Linked DNA regions of Homo sapiens: region 2 is linked to region 1. The links come from fine-mapping of genetic effects on plasma protein levels. Region 1 holds a variant in brackets. A gene starts in the other region. All regions are shown on their reverse strands. Region 1 has its middle 47 kb from the start of LINC01828. Region 2 holds the start of SERPINI2 (serpin family I member 2).

What was found. PIP is the chance, under the fine-mapping model, that this variant and not a neighbour inherited with it causes the effect. Protein levels are from antibody-based Olink assays in UK Biobank. Linkage for the fine-mapping came from a reference panel and not from the study's own genotypes, which makes the PIPs less certain.
Region 2: SERPINI2 starts here. The variant in region 1 is fine-mapped to the plasma level of the SERPINI2 protein (UK Biobank, PIP above 0.99).

What each region holds. Positions count from the first base shown.
Region 1 is chr2:67,037,628-67,040,558 of GRCh38, reverse strand. No RefSeq gene overlaps it. Among named protein-coding and RNA genes, the nearest start is that of LINC01828, 47 kb to the left of the region's middle. The variant A/G (reference allele first, on the strand shown) is at 1,208.
Region 2 is chr3:167,472,691-167,475,621 of GRCh38, reverse strand. SERPINI2 (serpin family I member 2) reads left to right here and starts at 1,580. Exons shown (of 9, transcript NM_006217.6): 1 at 1,580-1,619. LOC105374197 (a long non-coding RNA gene) reads right to left here. Exons shown (of 3, transcript XR_924683.3): 3 at 1,162-1,250.

The DNA.
Region 1 (2,931 bases):
TGTGTGTGTGTGTATCTTTCTTGGAGATAGACCAGCAGGGGAAGGCAGTGGCATATGATGAGAGTTTAGAGAAGATAGTCTAACCTAGAGAACAAAACATTTGCTGCCAAGGAGATGAGAACCTGAACATTTGCTTTGTGATTACAGCAATGACTCACTGTGTGACCTTTGATAAATTACAACTTCTTTGTTATACAGAGTTCTGTATTAATACAGGTGAGATAACAGTATCTACCTTATTTCCACAGAACATGAAAACAAGGTCACTTGAGCATTGCTTAAAATCCCAGGATTGAAGGAGGGGCAGGGGATTGTATTTTTGTTATATTATGTCCATGAGAAGGAAGAATCCAGAAAGCTCTGTTAAGCTTGGAAATCTTTTCTAATTTCTTTGGAAAATGCTCACTAAATAATGATTCCAACTCAGTGCTGGATGCACTGATTACAACCTACACTTTCTTTTCAAGCCTTAATTCACATACCTGGATAGATCCCTCGTTAGCTGAGTGCATTGCCCTCTAACTGAATCAGCAGAAATTAGCAAATTCAGACATCAGCTGTTTCTTTTCTGTGTTTAACAGGAAGCGTAATGCAACCTAGTTTTCCCAGGATTTATTTTTTTCACAAGTGCCAGAGCAGCACAACACCACAGGGATCTGAGCTGTGAGCATGTGCTGATAAAAGCTGGTTTCCTTTTGTGGTTGCCTTTTCATTGAATTGGCAAATAAATGGGCTTCTAATTATCTTTGGAGGTAGAAGTCTATTACATTTCACTAGGCCTGTGTATTTTGCTAATAAAATGAATACAACCCAAGAAACAAGAACAGTGGAGGGTGACAGGGTTAGCACTTTTACTGATACTCTCAGAGGCCTTGGAAGCATCCTCCTACAAGTAATCACATGGCCAGGGCCAAAGGAAAAGCACAGTGCCAGTGGATGAAAACAGGGGAGAGTCCTCACAGAGGGCACAAGTTGAGAAGATTACTCCAGGTGGCAAAGGAGGGTAGGAAAGGAGGTGAATTTCATGACCCCAGATTGTATACAGGGAACCCCAGACCACCGCCTAATGCAGGAGAACCTTATGATCAGTGGAATAAAAATGATGAAATAATTATGTCTTCTTGATCATTTGCAAAAGATTTCCTTAAATGATAGCTCATTTTGTATTTATTGCAATGATAAGGAAAGTGAAGTTCATAGAGGTGCA[A/G]TGATTTACTCTAATGTGTATATAAGGCAATATTCAAAATCAGGTCTACTGGAAGCAAGGCCAGGAATTCTTCCACCATGTCCGACAGTATTTGCCGTGTGGTGTAAATTAATGCCTGCCAAAATGTGACCTTCCTCCTCATACGTACAGCTGTTGAAATTCCCACAATAGTGGGAATTTCCACTTTGAGGGTTAGAGAAGGAAGGAAACAAAATTATATATTGTATAAACCACATTAGGTAGTGACAGAGAAAGAAAATAAGGACAAATTCTTTCTGGATATTTCATCCCAGTTGTCAAACTTGGAAAGCCAAATTGGGAAGCACAATTGATTGGTATTCATTCATTCATTCATTCAACAAGTGTAAATTAAGCTTCTATATGCCAGACACTGTGCAAGGCCTTGTATATTCAGGGGTGTGTGAAAGAGCCATGCCATGGTTGAGCAACACGGTGAGGAAAAAGAAGAAAGTGAAAGCATGAGTATCTCATCACTGATTGTGGAAAGTGCTGTGGAAGACAATGACAGGACTTGAAATTATCCCAACACATAGAAACGATAAACACTCGAGGTAATGGATATCGTAAATATCCTGACTTGATCATCACACATTCTATGCGTGTAACAAAATATCACATGTACCCCATGAATTGTACAAATATTATGTATCAATGAAAAACAAATTTAGAAAGGATAAAAAACAGGGATGGCTTCTCCAATTTAGAGCAGACCATTCTAAGGCAGTGATCTGAAAAATGAGAAGGAACGCTGCAGGGGAATACTGGGCAGAAAGCATATGAGGCCCTGATGGTGAGACAGCACCATTCCTTCCAGGAGCTGAAAGAAGGCCCCTGAGGTTGAAATGAGGTGGAGGGGAATGAGAGGGCGGTAAAGGGTGCAGAAACAGGCAGGAGCCTGAAGGACTGGCCTGGACTGTTCTGTGTGCCCAACAGCAACTGGCGGGCCTGGCCTCTGGATGGAAAGAAGACCTACCAGAAGGGCAGGAGACACCAAAAAGACTGAGGTGAACTTCAGCTTGCCCAGTTTTCAGGTCTGCAATTCCAGGTGCATGTGGTGGGTCTGCCACTTCCATAGGTAAGTTATTCCCCCATGTTAAATTCTGTGTCTGCCACTAACCCTACCCACAGTGCCTAATACTGCCACCATACTCACCTTAGTAAATGGACTTCAGTTCCACATGGGAACAGGGGAGAAGGAAACCTAAGCTGCCAACTAGGTTCACAGAAAATATTTTCCCAAGCTCCAATAGAGACTATGCAGTAAACTGAAAGGTTTCTGGCCAAGTCCTAGCCACCTCTGAAAGCCGTTATCGTGTGCAAATCCCACTTTCTCCCATTGTCCTGTTTGCTGTTTGTGGCCGAGTAAGCACCCAATCTGGGCAGCAGATCGTTAGGAGTAACTGATTAACAGCCGCTGCTGTAGAACTTGAGAGTTTTGTTTTCCACAACCTGAAAGGGTGCTTGCTTTATGATTTTTTAATTACAGTGTAAATATTGCCGCCCCATAAACCTCTTGATTTATAGCGACAGGTGTGAAAGTTTGCACTTGCTGTAAAAGGCCCCAAGTCTTCTGTTCTCTCCAGCCCCTGTTTCCCACCCCTTTCTCAGGCTATCCTGGCAGCTGGCTATTTGGAGGCACTTACTTTACCTGCTGTCGTACAAGGGCAGCAAACAGCAAAATCTCTAAATGGAGAGCTTATTCT
Region 2 (2,931 bases), not on the chromosome of region 1:
CTATTAAAAGAGGTTAAACCAGGGAGAATAAATTTATGGCTATTGCTTTTTACTCCTCAAGAGACAGGAAAATGAACATTCTGCCTGAACTGCTCTAATATAAGGTCCTTACAGAACAATTTCATTAAATGGTCTTAGTAGGACAGAGTGACGGTCTCTGCCATTGGTAGGAAAAGTAATGGACTATTTCTGGATAAATCACATTGTGATCTGAGCAGTGTACAGACATAATGATGTGGTAGCCAAGGGTACTGGTGATATATGTTTGCTGGTGTCAGTAAATGGGTAGAAAAGCATTGATTGAATGATAGTCTTGACATTCAGACTTAATATTTATGTATTGCAGTGTGAAGCAAGTAGAATGATAGTATTCTTGTATTGCACAACTCTTTTTGGAAAATTATCTCTGTGTTAAGTTAAAGCTACACTAGAGTGTGCTTATGATAGAGTAGGTAATATTAGAATAAAACTCAAGATCTAGAAAACATTTGGAGATGCCTATATGGGAAATCAAAAAATTTTAGTTAATTAGTAGATTATGGCCTATAATGATCTATTCTCAGGCCTATTTTTAAGTTATAGCCATGTTAGGACATGGAAAGATGTTAACAGGGTCCTCTGACAAGTTTTTAAAAATGAATTCCATTTAAAGCTATCTATATTCACTTTATTTCTTTTACATGAGTTTATCAGAAATAGTATTAAATTTGGGGATCAACAGATATTTAATTAAAAGTGAACTAAATTTTTTTTCTCTTCTCAAAGGCTATAGATAAATAATACAATGTGCTTAATATCTGATTGCCATTGAGGTGATTGATTTGAACTACAAAAATGAGATGAAACCCATTAAATTATGCAATTTTTTATTAATGACCTTTTTGCAAAGAAAATCATGTAGAGTTTCAAAAGCACATAAAGGTAACAGCAATTTTTATCATCCAATTACCTATGGCTAATAGTATTGTCCTGATATATTTTGGCAAATCCATTATCTTTTTTGCTGGCCTTTCTGCTCAGAATAAAGAACATATTTCTTCAATATCCACTCTTTTTCTTAAGGATTCAAATGGACCTTATATCCACAGGAAACTCCTCTGACTATTGTATAATTTGATGAATGTTGAGAACTCTGTCAATGCAGCAGTGATTTGTCTCTGTATTCTGGACTTGATTTAGCTTTATTCTTTTTCTCATAGGCATTCTGAAATATTTATGACAAAGTGCATTGGTAATCTGATGTAGGAGTCCTGTGAGAAACAAAAAGAACTAATTACTAGCAAATTTACAACCAGTAGCGCATCCTTTCAAATTCTGTGCAACTTTTAAAAGAAGCAAAATAATGGATAAAATAATAATATAAATTTAATACTTTTAAAAAATTCTATAATTGTTTTTTTCTCAATTCTTGCACATTTCATCAGTTGATCATTAACCCGATTGTGTTAGTTCTTAATACAAATGTAGTGAACACCTGCTTTTGTTCTAGAGGAATTAATCAAGCAATGGTCAAGATAAATGGAGTTGGCCTTGATCGCTCAGGTGTTTATGTACAAGAGTTTTCCAGCAAGCGTATTTTAGTTGTAACATTCCAGTGAATAATCAGAAGTCAGTTTGGGGTAAGTACCTTAGAAATAAATAGCTTTTGAATAAGTATGTATGCAATAACATTGCCTATGAATGTTTAGTAGAGTATGGAATGGCATTTCAATTTACTTTGGTGTAAAAATCATTTGAATTTATTTAATTAACATATCGCTTTTATTCTCCTTAAATGATTTCACCACAAATCAGAAGATCCAGTTCTTATAGGACTATTCATCAGGTTGTTTAGTTCAGCATTACTTTGTGCTTTCTGATAAGATATGATCCAAAACCTGATGAGGTAAGTGAGTTTTTAAAACCAATATTTGTCTGAGGTTATAATTTATTAAGTGCTTAGAAATTTTCTAGAAAAAATGGATGTGGATGCTCAAATAATATAAATTTAATTATTAAGATTATTAATAATAATGAGAAGGAAACTCTAATACTGAGATTCTACCACAAAGAAAAAAATTACATTTTTAATAATACTGTTCATTATTCCAATATAAACCAAATACATAAAGCTATATCTAATGTATTTCCAGTTGATAACTTAAAGGTACTAATAACATTTTGACTACGTATCTACAAACACATATTTTGGTCAGAAGTCTTCTGAGAAATTGAATATATTAGAAGATAATGATACACAGACATTTATTTTGCATGTAAAACTTCTCTTACTCACTGGTTTTTAACTATTGTTGCACTCTCATTTATAAGCTCATATGCTAAATTAATCCCTAATGAAACATTTGCTTGATATTAATAGCATATAGGTCTATATCTAAAGTTTACCAACACATTTTCTAACAATTGCTTTGGATTGTTTTTTGAGGCTTTTGTCTTTTGCAAATATATATCTAAACAAATACAGTTTAACAAAATACATTGAAGGATAAATAATGACTCCATAGTTTAATTTGGAACAATATTTGACTATTAGTAATCTTTATATATAAATATAGTTGTTCTTAGGGACTCCTACCATTTATGGTACCCTTAATGATCTGCAAAACACTCTAGAAATGTAAGTCTCTACTTAAGGCTGACAACAGACTATTCTAAAGGCTTTCATCTTTACCCCTAATTAAGGGTTACTTCCTAGTAACTTACTGATGGATAAGTTTTTAAGGATTACTAACATGTATTATTTATAAGGTAAAATTATTGTTACTAAAATTTATGAGGCCTTGGAGTCAACATTCTACCAAATATGTGGTAATATTGCAAAACTAATTCTGCTTGAGATATAATCAAATGGTTGAATTTCCTGCAATTTTAGTGGAGAGCACTTTAATAGGGTATTATTAGTCTTGTGAATTGTTTATGGTTTTTAATTGC